3 linked regions of the Homo sapiens genome follow. The protein of the gene in region 1 interacts with the protein of each later gene in a pairwise test. Each region holds a gene or a part of one and is shown on either strand. Other genes may lie near its edges.

The links.
Region 2: the proteins of CNR2 (region 1) and TMPPE interact in binary tests that used the Homo sapiens proteins (3 or more experiments, as listed by UniProt).
Region 3: the proteins of CNR2 (region 1) and TMEM86A interact in binary tests that used the Homo sapiens proteins (3 or more experiments, as listed by UniProt).

The regions. Positions count from the first base shown.
Region 1 is NC_000001.11:23,910,340-23,917,360, forward strand, and holds the start of CNR2 (cannabinoid receptor 2), read right to left. Parts: upstream 3,024-7,021; 5' UTR 2,907-3,023; intron 1-2,906. UniProt on the Homo sapiens protein: Heterotrimeric G protein-coupled receptor for endocannabinoid 2-arachidonoylglycerol mediating inhibition of adenylate cyclase. May function in inflammatory response, nociceptive transmission and bone homeostasis.
Region 2 is NC_000003.12:33,089,922-33,094,176, forward strand, and holds the end of TMPPE (transmembrane protein with metallophosphoesterase domain), read right to left. Parts: coding exon 2,913-4,255; 3' UTR 501-2,912; downstream 1-500.
Region 3 is NC_000011.10:18,693,944-18,701,778, forward strand, and holds the start of TMEM86A (lysoplasmalogenase TMEM86A), read left to right. Parts: upstream 1-4,835; 5' UTR 4,836-4,943; coding exon 4,944-4,964; intron 4,965-6,989; coding exon 6,990-7,254; intron 7,255-7,629; coding exon 7,630-7,835. UniProt on the Homo sapiens protein: Catalyzes the hydrolysis of the vinyl ether bond of choline or ethanolamine lysoplasmalogens, forming fatty aldehyde and glycerophosphocholine or glycerophosphoethanolamine, respectively and is specific for the sn-2-deacylated (lyso) form of plasmalogen.

The DNA of each region.
Region 1 (7,021 bases):
GCTGTGGTGAGGACTTAATGAGGAACGGTCACAGAGCTCAAATGTGTAGTAAATGCTTCATCAATCTTCGCTTAAGAAAAAAACAAGAGCGGATCACCTGAGATCGGGAGCTCGAGACCAGCCTGGCCAACATGCAGAAACCCCATCCCTACTAAAAATACAAAATTAGCCGGGCGTGGTGGTGCATGCCTGTCATCCCAGCTACTTGGGAGGCTGAGGCAGGAGAATCGCTTGAACCCAGGAGGCAGAGGTTGCAATGAGCTGAGATTACGCCATTATACTCCAGCCTGGGCAACAAGAGCAAAACGCTGTCTCAAAAAAAAAAAAAAAAAAAAAAAAAGAAAGAAAAGAAAAGAAAACAAAACAAAAAAACAAAAAACAAAAAACAAGAGCCCCTTTGAGGCAGGTTGGGAATGCTATGATAGCGTCATTTTTAGAGTTGAAGAAACTGAGGTTCAGAAAGGTGATGTAACTTGCCCCAGGTTGCCTGAGTAATTGATGAGGGAGACTTGGGTTTCCATGTGATTCCATGTGATTGATAGCACAAGCTCTGAACCCACAGCGCAGGACTCTCTGCTCACACTGGCTCCGCTATTCCTTGGCTGTGTGACACTGAGCAAGTCAACACTGCTGCTGAGTCTTGGTTTTTCTCATCTGTAAGATAGGGCTGCCTGTCTCTTTTCAGAGTGCCCTTTGTGTCTCGTGGCTCGGGGACTTTTTTCAGGGGTGAGAGTAGGAAGCAGAAGCTATTTGAAGACAACCCTTCTTCCTGTCCTTTCCTGAGAACCTGAGCGCAGTGAGAAGGTTAGGTCACGTGGGTGGGGGGTGGGGAGAGAAGAGTGTCCATCTGCCATCCACAGCCAAGGGGAGAGGAGAGATTGTCCTTGGCTGGGAGGGGACCGAGGTCTTGGGCACCTAGAATTTGCTTTCTGGGAAGATGGCAGGACCTCTGGGGGAAGTCACTGGGTGATATATCCTGGATGTCAAAATGAGACACAGTGGTTTCAGGTCTTACAAAGAATCTGGACTCCAGGCATGCCAGGGAAGTGGGCAAGGCTGGACTTCAGACAATCAAGTCCATTTGGGCAATGGGCATCCATCGTAGGAGGACCCAGGAGCCTCCCTCACGCTTATGTTCTGTGTGTCCTCTGGGTCAATGTGCATGGGTGGGGATGGGAGTGAGGGAAGCTCAGTGCACTTGGAGATTAAATTTCCTCCTAGCCCAGTAGGATGAGGCTCAGGGTCCTATTGAATGTGACTTCAACTGAATAAAGAAAAGATCAATTTATGCACACCCGAGGGTGTGCAGTAAGAGTGACTGGTACTGTAAAATGAGGTGGGAAGAGAGGGGGCTGGCGCTGGAGGGCTCTGCTTGGCTGAGCCAGGCTGCCATTTTCCCGTCTTCACTGCCTTATCCTGGCCTTAGCCGGCCAAAGGGTAAAGGATATGCTTCACCTGCCCAGCGCAGGTTAGGGGGTCACTCTGGTAAGCCACAAGGTGGTTACAGAGCTGGGGCCAGGATTATTGGGACTCCACCTCCTGAGCTCTCCCTGAACTTCTCCCCAGCCTCCATCCTGGTTTTCATGCTGCCAACGTGTCTACTTGCCACTCATTCCAGGGAAAAGCAGCCAGGCCTCATTTTATCCTCATCTCAGATCCACAGCAAGAGCAGATGGGGTGAAGATCAAACTCTCCACCACAGCCATTCCCGAGCCCTGTGCTGCTGCCCGCCCTGTGCCCGCATCAGACAGTTGACTCGCAACAAGCCTGTGAGTGACCTTCTCAGGCCCATGTTTCTCAGAAGAGGAAGCTGAGCAGGAAAGAAATGGAGTGATTTGCATTAGGCCATCGAGCTACCAGTGGCAGAGCTGGGATTCAGACCTGGACGCTGACCCCAGGGCACACTGGAAAATACTGCTCTTCCCTCCGCTGAGTGGAACTTACACCAAAGCAGACCCCTGGCCTCCTGAGTCCAGTGTGCCCCTAACACTACCTTGTGGTCTCCCCATCTATAAAATGAGAGCGCAGGACTCACCTGGTCATCTCAAAGGCCTCTGCCAGCCCCTGTCATTTCCTGGCCCCCATCTACTGTTGCAGTCCACACCTCGTAAGGCAGGATAGCCTGGTGGCTGAAGGGTGGGCCGCGAAGCCGGAGTGCCTAGGCTCAAGCCAATGCTCTCATTCAATGCCCGCATGATTTCAGGTGGGTCACCTAGCCCCCACCTATCAAGTGGACAACAGTGATAGCTCCTACTGCATACGGCTGTTGTGAGGATTAAATAAATCCAACCACTAAAGGCTCTTAGGGCAGCGCCTGGCACACAGTAAGGCCATCTCTGTGTGTGTGATTCTTGTCTCTGTAATGAAATGAAAGCCAAAGTCCTGATTCTTGGTCCTAGGAGGGGGATGCCAGCCCTGAACTTTCCTGCGACTGGTCCTCCACAACCCCAGGTGTCCTGAAATGACATCTATCCCCTGCCCCAGACAGGCCCACCTGGCTTCTTGTGTCCCTGGAGGGAAGGGATAAGGTAAGAATACAGGTTTTGGCCAGGTGCAGTGGCTCATGCCTGTAATCCCAGCACTTTGGGAGGCCAAGGTGGGCAGATCACCTGAAGTCGGGAGTTCGAGACCAGCCTGGCCAACATGGTGAAACCCTGTCTCTACTAAAAATACAAAAATTAGCCAGACGCAGTAGTGCACACCTGTAATCCCAACTACACGGGAGGCTGAGGCAGGAGAATCGCTTGAACCTGTGAGGCTGCACTGAGCCGAGATTGTGCCACTGTACTTTAGCCTGGTCAACAGAGCAAAACTCCGTCTCAAAAACAAACAAACAAACAAAAAAGAATACAGGTGTTGGGGAATGAGGAAGAAGCCTAAAATAAACAACAAAAAAAGCTACTCACGGTTGTGTTGTGGGTGGCTGGGCACTGGGAGCTGCCGGGGGCTGAGGAGTCCCAGTTGTTTTCTGTCCTCTCCCAGGACCTGGCCGTGGGTGCCACTCAGAGCACCTGTTGAGTGCCACCCCAAGCCAGCTTTCTCTTGCTTTTGTACTTTCTCACAGATGAGTGAGTGTGAGGAGGTCTGGCCTTCCGTGCCTGTTACCACTTCCCCTCCAGGTCCCTGGTGCCACAATGCTCTTGCCCCTGCGGTTGAGTTATCTCTTACAACGAACTCTGGCCAGGGTGGGGCATGGGCCTAGACCCTGGAGTCAAGGGACTTGGGTTCTAATACAGCCTCGTTAAAATGTTGATTCACTTAACTTCCCCAAAGGCAAGTTTCTTTATCTGTAAAATGGGGATAATGCACCAACATTACAGTAGATCACCTAAAAGGACATGCCATTCCAATGCCTCTTCACCACTAGGCCAGAGCTTTGAAATGCAAATGCCTACAGGCAGATTAACATAATGGGTGATGGATCCTGGTGTGGGGCAATAGGGAGTGGTAGGGACTGTGGGTAATAGGGGGAACACAGGACCCAAGTGGAAAAGCTTGGCTGGAGCTGAGAGGTACCTGACCCTCTCTACTGGCCCAGCTGAGAGGTATCTGCCCCACACCCCAGACCCTGATCTGGGCCAGTAGAGAGGGGCAGGTACCTCTTAGTTCCAGCCAAGCTTTTCTGCTTGGGAGTATAGGCAAATTGTCAGATATTCCAAGCATTTGGAAGTTGTGCTGTATTTTTCAAGAGATACCAGAAATCTTGACTTATGTGATAGCTTCCTGTGTGTGTGTGTGTGTGTGTGTTTTGTTTTTTGTTTGTTTGTTTTTGTTTTGAGACCAAGTCTCGCTCTATTGCCCAGGCTGGAGTGCAATGGCGCAATCTCGGTTCACTGCAACCTCTGCCTCCTGGGTTCAAGCAACTCTCCTGCCTCAGCCTCCTGAGTAGCTGGGACTACAGGTGCACACAACCACCTCCAGCTAATTTGTAGTTTTAGTAGAGACAGGGTTTTGCCATGTTGACCATGCTGGTCTTGAACTCCTGACCTCAAGTGATCCACCCACCTTGGCCTCCTAAAGTGCTAGGATTACAGGGTGAGTCACCACGCCCAGCCACTTCCTGTTTATTTTATTTTACTTTATTTTATTTTATTTTAATTTTTTGAGGCAGGGTCTCGCTCTGTTGCCCAGGCTGGAGTACAGCGGCACGATCATAGTTCACTGCAGCCTCAAATTCCTGGGTTCCAGTGATCCTCCCATCTCAGCCTTCCAGGTAGCCGGCAGAACAGGCATGTGCCACCACACCTGGCTATTTTTTTTTTTTAATTTTTTTGTATAGATGGGGGTCTCACTATGTTGCCTAGCTTGGTTTTGAACTCCTGGGCTCAAGCAAATCCTCCCGCCTCAGTCTCCAAAAGTGTTGGGATTACAGGCATGAGCCACCATGCTCAGCCAGTTGCCAATTTTAGAATGTAAAGCCCAAAGTCACACCTTTAAAAAATGCTATGTGAGTCAAACTAAACATTATCTTCAGTTTATATTTATTAGGGAGTATGTCCCTAATGTCCAGTCCTGGGCTGGATGTACTCAGGTATGGTATCTGATATAGTTCCAAGTGTCCTCACACCCACTCTCAGATAAAATATTTAATGAGACGCCATTATATTCTAAGGATACAGAGATGATTATGGCAAAGTTTTTGCCCTTGTAAACTCATGGCCTATGATTATCTCATCAGATCCTCTCACTAACTGCTCCCCACACCCCAGACCCTGATCTGGGCCAATGAAGAAAGATTTTGCCCCTGAGGTAGAGTTGCAAGATTCTTCAAGTAAAAAATGTTACAGGCATGAGCCACCCCACCTGGCCCAATGAATTATATTCTTGAAGATGATGGAGAGTAGATTTTAAGTGTTCTCACCACAAAAATAAGTATGTGAGGTAATGCAACAATAGTTGAGACATTCAGGCACTAAAAATTACTTGTTGCTTATGTGCGATTAGAATGCTCAGCCTAGCGTGGTGGCTCACGCCTGTTATCCCAGCACTTTGGGAGGCAGAGGCAGATGGACTGCCTGAGATCAAGAGTTCAAGACCACCCTGGGCAACATGGTGAAACCTCATCTCTACTAAAATACAAAAAATTAGCTGGGTGTGGTGGTGCGTAGTTGTAGTCCCAGCTACTCAGGAGGCTGAGGCATGAGAAATGCTTGAGCCACAGAGGCGGAGGTTGCAGGGAGCCGAGATCGCCTTACTGCACTCCAGCTTGGGCTCCAGAGTGAGACTCTGTCTCAAAAAAAAAAAAAAAAGAAAAAAGAAAAAGAAAAAAAAGAATGTAACCAGGCATTCTCTGTCTTATCTGGCAACACCACCCAGAGGGGACACTTGGCAATATCTGGAGACATTTTTGGTTGTCACAACCTGGTGGAGGAATTCTACTGACATCTGCTAGGGAGAGGCCAGGAATGCTGCTAACCATTCTGCAATGCACAGGACAGCCCTACAGCAAGGAATTATCCAGCTCAAGATGCTAACTTGCGAACCCTGGTCTGGACCTAGTCCTGGCTCCTTCAGCGCAAAGCCATTGCTGGGAAGGGCCTTTAATTTGATCATTCATCCCTTTGGGAAATGGAACAGTAACAGCCTCCAGCCCTTGCATCTCTCCCAAGAGCAAGACATTGGCAGTGAGGAATGGGACAGAGAGCCCCAGGTGCCAAGAAAGAGGAAAAGAAGACCAGAAGGAGCTGGGGAGTGGGGCCCGCCTGCAGCCTACATCAGACTCCTATCTGGGCTGGAATTGGAGACCCAGGGGTGAGCTGGAAGAGATCTAGCAGATGCTTCCACAATCCTGAATCCTAGACCTCTGGCCTTGAGAAAGCCCCACATGGGGAAGAAGGGTGAGGCTGTCCCCAAACGCCTGGTCCTCCATTGCAGCCCAAAGCATGTAATTGGAGGTGGAAGGCATGAATGAGTGAAGGAATGAATGAACGAAGGAAGAAAGAAAGGAAGTTACTGAAAGTTCAAGTGGAAGGAACGCTGGGAAGCGGAGTTTTTGTGTGGTCTCTGCCATTGCCTGGCTGACCAACAAGTTGCTTCCTGTATCTGTTCTCAATTTCTCCATTCCTAAAATGAGGAAGTTGGAGATAACAGGTGCCCCTGAAACGCCTGAGTGCATGGAAGTCACCCACAGGGCCTGTTAAAACACAGATTGGGGCCGGGTGAGGAGGCTCATGCCCGTAATCCCAGCATTCTGGGAGGCTGAGGCGGGAGGAGGTCTTGCCTGAACTCAGGAGTTTGAGGTTATAGTGAGCTCTGATTATGCTACTGCACTCCAGGCTGGGTGACAGAGAGAGAACCTTGACTTGAAAAACAAAACCCCAAAACACAGATTGCTGGGCCCCACTCCCAGAGATTCTGATTCAGTATTCTGGGATGGGGCCCAAGAATCTGCATTTCTAACTAATTCCCAGGGGAAGCAGATGCTGTCGGTCCTTGGACTCCCTATGGGCAGCACTGGACAAGAGAATCAATAAGGAAGCTCCATGATCTCTCAGTCCCCTGGGCAGGGCTGATGGGGCCCACAGGGGAAGTCTGTTCTCTTTTTGCCCTGGGAGGGCCAGGAGCAATTGTAGGTGAGGGTTTAGGAGGCGGTTTTCTCAGCTCCTTGGGTAGAGCTGGCCTCAGCAGCCCTTGTACTGTGAGATGCCGCCATCTACAGGATGGATCTACCCCATGCTGGGGCCGAGTGCTGTCATATTGAGGGTCTGATCTGAGGAGGAACATTCCCGAGAGGTATACTTTTCCTGTCAGGCCACAGGGAAGCAGTCTTTGCACTGTCTGAACCAACTGACCCTAAGATGGTTCAAAGCCAGGCATGGTGGCTCATGTCCGTAATCCCAGGCCTGTGGGAGACCGAGGAGGAAGGAAGGATTGCTTGAGCCCAGGAGTTCGAGACCAGCCCAGGCAACATAGCGAGACCCTGTCTCTACAAAAAATAAAAAATTAGCTGGGCATGGTGATGTATGCCTGTACTCACAGCTACTCAGGAGGCTGAGGCAGGAGGGTCATGTGAGCCCAGGAG
Region 2 (4,255 bases), on another chromosome or scaffold:
TAAGATAGTAATTTTTTTGCCACAATAAAAAATATAGTTGAGATAATCAGGAAAAACTAAACACTAACTCTTCACACAGTTAACTGCATTTGAATTCTGTACTCATTTGTGACAGATACAGCTACTTAATACTCAGAGAGTGGAAAGAACACTTCTTTAAAGAGGTCAAAAATCTGGCTACTAGCCCCAAATCTCCTAACTAGCTATTAGATGATATTCAAGAATCACTGTTAATTTCATTGGATATGATAATGACACTATAGCTATGCTTTTTGAAAAAGGATTCATACTGAAGTAATTTTGGGGTAACATTATGTTTTCTATGATTTACCTTAATATACTCCAGCCAAAAAATAAAGAGTACAGGTGGGGCAGGGGTAGCTGAGAAAGGATGGCAGAGTGGTCTCGTCATGCTTGTTAAAGCTGGGAGAGAGGTACATGTACGAAAAGTTTAAAACAAACCAAACAAAACACGAGGGGAAGAAAAGCATGGATGGGTATTTGGAAGGAATGGCAGCAGGATCAATTTATTGAGATTTTGTGACAGCATCATATACTACAGACACTATTGCTGATTTTCAAAAAGCATTGCATTTCAATTTGCATCTAACAGATTAAAAATAAAGAAACAAATGAAATTGAAAGAATGATCAAGCTTCAAGTAACGTTTCTCACCACCTCCCCCGGCCACAAACAAACAAAAAGGTCCATGGTTTAAGAATGTTGAACAAAGGGACTAAAGGTGTCATGGAGACCTGCCCACCAGGGCCAGAATCTGGACAGTGATGGAGAAATTTCTGCTGCAAAAATGTCCGCCGCGTCAGGGAATACAAACCACATACGAGAGGGTGTTGATGTTGTTTCTCAGATACATAGGATGGACCTGTTTTCTTTCTGCTAATAGAAAGCAATCAGTCAAGCAAGGACTTCAGAGTGGATGAAGGGTACATAAGACCACACAATGATGGCATTCAAGAGAAAGAAAAGAGGTAAGGATGCAAAATTAAAAAAAAAATAGGACTTAATGAAAGCTAATTTCATCAAGCCCAGGTCACTGATGAGAAAGATGTAAAATCAAGAAACCAGTGAAATAACACGTAACAGGTGAGTCAAACATTACCAGCCGCATCAAACAGTGGAAGTGAAATGGCACCATCTAGCCCACCTGGTGAAATCCAAAGCGAGAACTTAAAGGGAGTAAGGATGATTCACAAAATGCGGTCGGGACACAAGAAAAGTGAGTTTGGAAGGACAGTGAAGAGAGAAAAAAGAATAAGGAAACCACCAAAATTTCAACTCAAAGATACATTTTAAACTGCATGGTATGGCCCACTGTCAATACCGTGGCTGCCTGGGAACAAAAAGGGTGGTCTCCAGATCCCCCAGAACCCCACTATACACCAGGAGGACAAGGAGGAAAGGAAGAAACCCCCTTTGCCTGCCAGAATGCACATGAGGGAAGGAAGGCAAACCCCTAGCAGTTGCTGCTTTGACACATCACCTGCCCCAGCAGCAGGCAGCTCGCTACCCACTCACATTCCCCAGGACTGGCTGCTCCATGAATCCTCTGGGCACCTGTGCCCAACAGAGTTCCTTAGCAAGCTCCACTGGAACGTTGAAAAATTAACATTGAGTGTTTACTGTGCACGCTGTGCCATGTGGAACTCATGCACAAGGCTTGATGGATCCCTCCTGACAAAACAATCTTGAGGTAGATACGATAATTATCCCCATTTTAGGGTTGATGGAAACCAAGGCTGAGTGAGGGAAAGTCACCCACCCAACGCTGCCCTATGAGTGAGCAGCAGGGTTAGCCTCTCCAGTCAGAGCGAGTGTCTTCACTCCCCATTGGAGGAAGACTTTCCATCACAAGCCTAAATCACCCAGCAGGAAACCAGCCCAGCCCTGTCTTCTCAGTGAGGCCTTTTCTAACACGGGTGCTTATCTCCATCTCAGGATCAAAGGATCTATTGCTTCTGGCAAAAGGGCAAAAGCACCGCTTTTACTGGGAGGTACAAGACCTGGTTTCTAGCCCCAAATCTCCTACATATCTTGTCATACTGCCTGTGCCCTATCTCTCTTTGCCTTGGTTTCCTTATCTCCAAATAGGGAAAAGCAGCCTGTCCCCAGTGAGCTCCCCGAAGGGTTGTATAAAATGAGACAAGGGAGGCAAAGCCCTCTGAATTCCTAAGCAGCCATGTTCTCACCATCACCGACCATGGCGCCCACCGTTCTTCTCCCCTGACCTTGCCCCCAAAGGCCCAGGAGCACAGACAGTTAAATAGCATCCCTCAAGGCCTGGAACAGGAGGAGCTTTGCATTCCAGTAGATTTTGCTGATGCCCTCAATAGAGGTGATCCTGATAGAATCAGAGGAAAAGAAAATATTCTTCTCTAGCAGCCAGAGGGCCCTTCCATCTTGCCTGTTCTCCCAAATTACCTGGCAACACTACCCCTTCCCCAGAAAGGCTCTGGATCAATGATTCTGGAAACCACTTAAGTCCTAAAGACAATTTTAAAACACCAGGAGAAAAATGCTCCTGCTCCTCCCCGCCCCACCTTCTAGAGGTATGCCTTTCTAGCAACCCCGAGGGGAGGTTCATCCCTGGGAGCTCTGCAGGAGAAGGTCCCCATTCCACATCATCTGGAAAATAGAGGGGAGTGCTAATATATGTGACCTTAGTGATCTCACAAGTGCATCAAAAAAAGCAACTGGCCAAGGAAATAGTTAAACCAGCCTGAACATGCCAGGCAGGCCCACCATAAGTCACTGTTTGAGTCAGGCTTGTGACCAAGGGTGTGTAGGCAAGGATGAGTGGGCAAGGCTGGAGGGGAAAAGCAGGCAAACCACTCTGAAGCAGGATGGAGGGTCGAGGACAAGGGCAGGGCAGAGGTGCACAGGGCAGGGCCAGTTCAGGGAGACCGCTGCAGGATGAGCTCTGTGATCTCGGCCCTGCTACCCAGCCTCATGGGTATCCCGTAGTAGGCTGTGCCTGGGCTGACATACACGAATGTAGCCTGGGCCACCTGGTAGAGACCAGCAAAGAAGGGATTCAGGAGATAGGCTGCTACGTTCAAGGGGAAGATCTGCCCAGCATGTGTGTGCCCAGAAAGGATCAGGTTAATATCTGGCCGAGCCTGGAGAGCTCTCTTGGCAGCCAGGGGCTGGTGAGCTAGCAAGATGATTGTGTGGTCTGGGCTGCAGCCCTCCAGGGCCTTGTCAAGATCCATGCCATGGCCAGAGTAGTGCAGGATGTCTGCTTCAATATCGTCCACCCCAGCCAAGCAGATCCAGTCCTCATCCTCACTCCCACTGCCACTGCCACCACCACCACGTTGGGCCCGTGTGGCGGAAATCTTCACGTTCTCATTATGAAGAGGCTGGACATGCAGGGATTCCAGAAGTGCAAACCAGTTGCTGACATCTGACGTGTAGTACTCATGATTGCCTGTGACGAAGTAGGCACCGAGATGTGAATGAAGCTGGCCCAGAGGAGCGACAGCCGTCCGCAGGACCGAGGCTTCTGAGTCGGAGAGGTCACCCACAATCACCGTGATGTCTGGTTCCAGCACATTCACCATCCTCACAAACATTTCCATCTTGGTCCTGCCCACTGTGGGGCCCAAGTGAATGTCTGAGAGGAGCACGATCTTGAGGTTGTTCATTGAGGCAGGCAGCTGATGGATGGGCACCTCCACAGTTTTCACAGCCGGGGGCTGCGCGGCATTCAGAATCCCGGCCACGCTGAGCACAGCAGTCACTCCCACTGCCAGGGCAGGCCTGAGCACGAGCTTCCTTGTCTTCTCAAGGCTGCCCACGACCCTACCACTGCGCCAGGCCAAGAGCTGGTAGGCCTGCTCCATGCCGCTGAGGATGAAGAGGAAGAAGAGCATGATGATGTAAGCACCCAGGCAGGAGTAGGCCGCCAAGGAAAAGAGATAGGGCTCTTCGGCCACTAAAAAGAACATGGTAAAGAAACTGGAATGGGCCAGGGCCAGAAATGCCAGAACCACCACCTTCCAAAGCTGAAAACAGGTTGACTCTGCAGCTGGGGAGTGGCAGAGGTTGCTCACTGTGCTGCGCCAAATGTAGAGGGAGCCAATGAGCAAGAGCGAGTTGACAAACAGGGCAAGCTGCAAGCGAAGCAGCCAACGCCAGGCCCTGAGCTCAAGGCTCTCTGCCAGATACGAGCGGGAGGCGATCATGGACACGAAGACAGTGACAGCAGCCAGGGTGGCCTTCGCGCCTAGGGACA
Region 3 (7,835 bases), on another chromosome or scaffold:
TCCTTACAACTCAACAACTGACGCCCTCACACTGTTATCAGAACATCTGACCTTGTCACACCCTCCTTAACATCTCTGATTTCTTCGACATATCTGCAGGTGGGGTGGGGGTGGAATCGGGTATGTGTGGTGACCCTGAGAGTTGGTTAAAAGTGCTCTGGAGGCTGGGTGCAGTGGCTCACACCTGTAATCCCAGCACTTTGGGAGGCCGAAGCGGGCGGATCATGAGATCAGGAGATCGAGACCATCCTGGCTAACATGGTGAAACCCCATCTCTACTAAAAATACAAAAAGTTAGCTGGATGTGGTGGTGGGCGCCTGTAGTCTCAGCTACTCGGGAGGCTGAGGCAGCAGAATGGCGTGAACTGGAGAGGCGGGGCTTGCAGTGAGCTGAGATTGCGTCACTGCACTCTAGCTTGGGCGACAGAGCGAGACTCTGTCTCAAAAAAAAAAAAAAAAAAAAGTGCTCTGGAGGCCTGAAACAGAAAAGAAATTAGCTGAGATCCAGCATCAGGTTGGGAATAAGATAATCAGTTTAGGGCTGGATTATGATTTCAAGCAGGACAAACTAAGTGAGGAAAAATATCCTGTGGCAAAACAACAGAGGTCAGAGATGAAGGAGGCCACTGGGTGAGAAGAAGCCCCATGGGGGAAGCGAGGCAAGCTCAGAATGATGATGGGTCATCATTTCTGTGCATTGCCCATGTCGCTGGTGGATGACAGCGGGCACAATTAGAGATGCTAAGGAACAGAGGACAATTGGTTTAGTGTCATCTACTATGTCAAGTCTAAACTTCTTAGTAGAACCTTCATTTTTATTTTTATTTATCTATTTATTTTGAGACAGAGTCTTGCTCTTGTTGCCCAGGCTGGAGTGCAGTGGCACAATCTCGGTTCACTGCGACCTCTGCCTCTTGGGTTCAAGCGATTCTCCAAGTAGCTGGGATTGAAGGTGCCCACCACCACACCCAGCTAATTTTTTTTATTTTTAGTAGAGACGGGGTTTCATCATGTTGGCCAGGCTGGTCTTGAACTCCTGACCTCAGGTGATCTGCCCACCTTGGCCTCTGAAAGTGCTGGGATTACAGGCATGAGCCACCGCGCCTGGCTGAGTAGAATCTTCAAGATCTGAGTTGGCTCATGCTTCTTCAGTTTCACCTTCTCACTCCCCAGCTCGAATCAGTACTACAGATATTTCCCTGAATTCAGTGTGTCTCTTGTGCTCTTATGTACACATGCAATTCCCTCTGCCTAGAATGGCATATACATTGGTGTCTGCTCAATAAAGACTAACTCGTTCTTCTAGATTTAACTCTAGCTCCTGCAATTGCTCCAGGTGTAATTTATAATTCTGATGTCTTTTTTTAATGCCACCTGTGACACCTTCATACTTCATTAGGTCAGCTACCACATTGAATAATTGTTTACTTGCCTGTCTGAAATGAACTGTGAGCTCCATAAGGATAGAGAATATATTTTACTCAATATTTTACACCCCAGAACCTAATACAGTGGTTAGCACATATTAGGTGCACTGTAAACATTTGTTGGATGAATGAGTGAGTGAATGGGCTCACAAGCACAGGGAAAATTACAAAGCTGTGTGAAAAGGGCCATGCCAATAGGTTGGAAAGGAAGAAATGCCAGTTCCTACCAAAAGGGAGAAATGCCCATTTTCAGGAAGCCTTATCCCACTTTCTGCCTCCTGCAATATGCAATTCAAAATAAAAACACTAGTAAATAGTAAACACTAGTAAATAGTAAATGAAAATTTACTTTTGAAACAACAAATCTCAACCATATGAATGAAGTCAGAATAAGCTCTTTCTCTTTGGGAAGAGGGTGGTGCCCTTGCTTTGTGGGTGCCTATATCAGCCAGGGTACTGGCACACTCAATAATTTAACTGAAGAGAATTTAATGACTATTTGCAGAGACGAAACTAGCCATGGGTGAGGAGGCACCTAAAGACTAGCAATAGCACTGGGCACAGTAGCTCATGCCTGTAATCCCAGCACTTTGGGAGGCCGAGGCGGGTGGATCACCTGAGGTCAGGAGTTCGAGAGCAGCCTGACCAACATGGTAAAACCCCATCTCTACTAAAAATACAAAATTAGCCGGGCGTGGTGGCACATACCTGTAATCCCAGCTACCAGGGAAGCTGAGGCAGGAGAATCGCTTGAACCCAGGAGGCAGAGGTTGCAGTGAGCATAGATCACACCACTGCATGGCAGCCTGGGGGACAGAGCAAGACCCTGTCTCAAAAAAAAAAAAAAAAAAAAAAGACTAGCAACAGCAGGAAACTGTTGCCACCCCTGGCCTGAAGGTATGGGGAGGGAGCCTGGGGCTGTAGCCATGGAGAAGCAGGCCACAGCCAGAATCTCAGCCTGGTCCATCAGGCCTCGTCCATGTTCTCATCTCCTGCCTCTGAATTTCATTGGCTGAACTCAGCCAGAAGCCAGGGCCCTGGTGATCCCTGAAGATACAGTCCATAGAGCTCAGGCTCCCAGGACAGGGTAGAGAAGAGCCAAGAATGAATCTAGGTGGTGGGAAGGCAAATGGAGAAAAACCGGCATTGAGGGGGGATGCCTCTGCTTTGTAGGCGACTTGTGTATATGATTAGTTTGCCTACTGGGTAATCAAGCACTGAGTGGAACCCTGTAGATGGGAGTTCTAAGTCTCATGTTTTGTATTGTTAGGTATTTGTATGTGCAAGCTTCTTAGAACTGGTGCCACTAATTAGTAGGTCTTGGGTGGGGCAACGGCATCTATGTTTTTAAAAGCTTTCCAAGTAATTTTGATAGGTACCACTTGTTGAGAACCACGGATATAGTCCACCTTCTCATTTTTATAGAGAGGCAAACTAAGGTCTAGAGAAATGAAAAATGCCCTGACTTGGCAAATTTCTGTTTGAGAACTATCCCTCAGGTGATGTTAGAGGGTTTGGCTGGAAAACTGGAATATTTGCACCTTCTACTAGCCCATTTCCTCCATTTTATTCATGAGAAATCTGAAGCTCCAAAGATGGAATGATGTGCTCAATTATACACCACAGTAGTGAGTCATGGAGAAGGAAGCACTAGGACTAAGAATGGCATTTCTAACTCTCAAGCCAGTGTTCTCTCTAGGCAGCACACTTGGTAGAAATGTGTGTGTGTGTGTGTGTGAGTGACAAAGCCCTGGGGCAGCAGTTATAGTCCTTCATTCTGGTAAGGTGCTCTCCCCAAAGCCCCTAACTGGAAAGAAAGAGGAGTAGGCAGAGGTCATTGACCCTTAGAACTCTATGCTGGAGGGGACTGGAGGGGATGGGGGGAAGATCTGGGTGACTCCTGTCCCAAGCCTTGACTCTCACTCTTGTTGTACTGGACTCTGAATCTCTGGTTGCCAATTCTGTCACCAGAAGAGGACTATCACCCCTCTGAATGGGTGTTGGGACTTTAGGGAAAACTGGGTAGGATCCAGAAGGAAAAGGAAGAGACCCATTGTGGGAGGGGCTTACAGGAGACTTCAGCCTGTCGGTCTCTGCCCAAACAGCACAAGGCTCAGGACCAGCACAAGGGCCTGTGTCACCATGCCAGGATGTTTGAAACTCCTTTTTGGCTGCTAATTAGGGCTGGTCACCCCTTTCCCATCAATTCCCAAAGCCTGACACACAGCTACTGCCCTTCTACAGTAGCTTACAGACTACTTGCCCATCCTTTGAGATACAGCTGAAATCTCCATCTCCAGGATTGCTAGACTTAAATTTCCTAAAACCAGCAGCCCTTCCTCTTCCCCAACCTACACATGTCAGAGTTGGGTGGAACCTTAGAACTCACCCGCTCATCTTCTAAGTGAGGAAATCAAGACCAGAGAGGGGAAGTGATTCACCCAATCTAACAGCATGGAAGTGGCAAAACTGGGACTAGATTTCAGTCCATCTGGCCACCTACCTCTCCATGTAATTCCAATGATTCTGAACATGCACCGCTCTGAATGAGCTTGTGTTCCTTTAGTCTACGTAAAATCAACATTAAATCCACTTGGGACGTATTTTTGGCAAAGTTAGCTCACGCTTCTTTGGGTCTGCCTGTCTGTCATTCTTGGGGTGCTCTTGTATGTGTGGCAGTGGTCTCTGAGTTGTAAGAGGTGTGTGCCTACGGCCAATTATCTGTGTTTGTTTCTATATTAGGGTCATGGGTCTACGAGCTGCTGTAGAGTCCCTGTATATGTCTCTTTTCTTACATGGAGCATATATGTCAATTTGTGGTTGTTGGTTTTGGATCTGTGTACTTGTTGAGTGCTTAAGGGTAATTATGATTCTGTATGTGTGATGTATATGCTACGATTATGGGTCCATGGCTGCTGCATACCTATATACGTGCCGCTTTTCAAGTCGAAGGTTGTGTGTTTGCTGATGATTTGGATGTGTGTTTGTACACAGTGAAGGTTGTGAGTCCAATTGCAATCGTATCGGCGTGGACTGCATGTTTAAAGGCTTAAGGGAATCTGTCTTTGCCTTTTGCTCCCGGGTTATGAGAAAATGTATGTGGCTGTGCGTCCAGGACAGCAATGTGTTTGTCTCTCAGCCAAGCTCAGTCCTCACCCAGGCACCGGGGTCACGGTCACGTTCACGTTCCGTGGACGCCTTGGCACGGCCTCCCAAGGGGGCGGGGCCTGGGGGGTATCCGCCTTCTGACCCCTGGGAGATGCCTCCTTTCTCCGAGCAGCAGCCGGGGGCCTGGCCGGCGCCGCCAGCCGGGCCCCGCCCCCCCGGCTCCCGCCCGCTCATTGGCCCTGGCAGCGGTGACGTCACGGGGCTAGCTGACAGAACCCCGGCGCCGGGCGCTCGGGAGGTATTGTCCGTCCCTCCGGGCTTTGTAGAATCGTCGCCGGCTTACCTGGCCGTGGGCGCGTCCTGGCCGCTGCAGCCCGGAGCAGGGTGCCAGCCGCCGCCGCCGCCGCCATGGTGTCCCCGGTCACTGTGGTGAGTGAGCGAGCGAGCGAGCCAGTGCCCGGCGCGGCTGGAGCCCACCGGCCTGGCCACCGGACTTCGGCAGGCCGAGCTGCCGAAGGGGCCGAGGCGGGGCGGGGGTCCCGTGGCGGCCGGAGTCCCGCGGCGGGAGGCGGGCGCTGTCACCGCCCCCCGCTCCTCAGACTCGCGGCGCCCCTCCTCGCGCGCCCCCAGCCCGCCCGCGGAGGGAGGAAAACACTGGCCACGTGACTCGGAAGCGTGACTTTGTTGATCTCCATGTATTTGGCGCGGGTCGGCGGGGTCGCGGCCCGGGAGAGGGAGGGGACCGCTGCCGGCCGCAGAGTTCCGCGTAGGCGGACCACAGGGAGGCGTGGGGGCGGGGGATGCTGGGAGGATAACAGGGACCTCCTGGGAATGCCGTCCCAAGTTTGTTTCCTAACCTTCCTCATTTTGTAAACAAGTTGGCGGACGCCCCTGAGTCTAAGAAGCGCTGATAACGCGCTGGGGGAAAAGGGGGCATTCTCTATGACATCCCCTGCTTTTCAGACTTTCTCAACTTGAACCTTTTGTTTCGTCTCCCCATCCTCCTTATTCTACTACTGGGTTCCCTATAACTGTCAGGGTCTCTCCAGCTACTGCCAGTATCTCCTTCTAGAAAATATGGGGCTGGGAGAGGCCATGGAGCGGAGGTTAATGCTCCCAGGGGCTGGCAGGTGGTTGCTGGGCATTGTGGGCCTGGGCATCCCCTCCAGCCGCCTCCTCTGACCATGCCCCTACCCTGACCAGCCTTAATTTCCATGGGAAGTGGAAGTCATCTCTTCTCACTGCTCTTACCTCTGGCAGAACAAGGAAAGGCTTGGACCCTGGAACCACCCATCCGCCTCTTCCCAATCCTCCTCATCACAGTCTGATCAGTCCTTAGGTACCTGGTCGTCTGGACTCTGAGTGTTTCCCAAGTCCTGTGCTGGGCAGCTCACCTAGCCAGAGACACAATCGCTTTGGGCAGAGTGTGGGTGTACAGGGAACTCCAGCTGCTCCATATCACCCTCAATGGATCTGTTAGCAGCCCAAGGAAAGGAGTTTCAAGGATCACAGATTCAGAACATCGCTGCAGCCCCCTCCCCCAGCTTGGACTCTGCCTGCAGTGGCCTTGGGTACAACCTTTCTTTAGCTGCCCTCTGCTAATCCGGCTGAGACCAAGTCAGCTGCTCTAACTTCCCCCTCTCAGTTCCCCATCTCCCAGCCTGTCTGCTGGCTCCAGATCAGAAGCTGGGAATAGAACCTCTCCCCCCTTTCCTGCCTCTTTCTGGTGTGGCTTGAGTTGCTCTTGTTCTCTGGGAAATGAGGCTGACTGACACACACCCTCCCTTCCCCCAATCCTTGAAATCTTTGGTGTTTGAAGGACAATTTTCTTGCTCCCAACTCATGGGTCCATTTATCTAGCCAGCATCCCTAGCATAGCCCTCCTTGCCCTTGATGCCACCTTCAGGCTGGGGCAGGTGGAGTGGAGGCTGAGGAACAGACTGGTTGAGGAGGAGAGAGGCTGTGGTGGCTGAGGTGATTGCCATTGCCTGCTTTCCCACATTCCTGGCACACACCTGGTGTTGCCAGGGCCCTAAGGCTGCACCCTGGCCCCATGCTGAGGATCACGAGTTGGCCAGTCAGGGTGTCTCTGTGGTTTCCCACTGACTTCACTCCATTCCAGAGTGAACAGCTGGGGGCTGTTGCTGGCAGAGAGGAGGGGCTAAAGGGGCCCTGAGGAGGGAGAAGGAGGGGGCAGGAAGGGAGAAGCACACTAGGCTGCAGAAGGGTGCCCCTCCTAATATACTGAGCCTCAGGGCAGTAATGGGTTTGGCCACAACCTGCTGGCTGGTAGAGGCAGGCCAGGCTGGGTTTCTCTGTGTCAGTCTTCTCAGGTTGGGGGTGGAAGTGAGGTGGGGGTATGGATGGGAGTGTCTCTGGGGTGGATGCCTAGGCTGAGGGTGCTGGCTTTCAACCCCCAAGTTCTGAGTGCTGCCCTTGTCCTGTGTCCTCCAGGTGAAGAGTGAAGGACCCAAACTGGTGCCGTTCTTCAAGGCCACCTGCGTGTATTTTGTGCTCTGGCTGCCCTCATCTAGCCCATCGTGGGTCAGCACCCTCATCAAGTGCCTGCCTATCTTCTGCCTCTGGCTCTTCCTTCTGGCCCATGGCCTGGGATTCCTGCTGGCCCACCCCAGCGCCACCCGCATCTTTGTGGGGCTTGTCTTCTCTGCTGTAGGTGACGCCTTCCTCATCTGGCAGGACCAAGGATACTTCGTGCATGGTCAGTGGCCATAGTAGTTGCCTGGGAGGAGTCCTGGGGCTGGGGGATAGAGGGTCCTGGGCTGTGGGCAAAGATTTGGAAGAGGGAGTTCTTGAACCAGAGTGTGGGGAGCCTGAGGGTTTCTGAGGCCAGGGACTGTGAGGGTCCTTGTTAGGGGATGACCTCGCAGGGGAACTAGTGATCAGTTCCAGAGTCCTTCAGGGGACTGGGGTGGTGGTCTTTAACTTTAGATCTTCCTACCCCTGTTATCCCAAAGCAAAGCTGCTGGGTTATCCCAAACACTCCACTCCATCGCCACATCCATCCCTACCCCCACCCTGTTACTCATTCTTCATCAAGCTTGCCCTCAGCTGCCTTTGCCCCTCTTACCCCCAGGTCTGCTGATGTTTGCTGTGACCCACATGTTCTACGCCTCGGCCTTTGGCATGCAGCCACTGGCTCTTCGGACAGGTCTGGTGATGGCAGCGCTGTCGGGCCTGTGCTATGCCCTCCTCTACCCATGCCTCTCAGGTGCCTTCACCTACCTGGTGGGGGTCTATGTGGCCCTTATCGGCTTCATGGGCTGGCGAGCTATGGCAGGG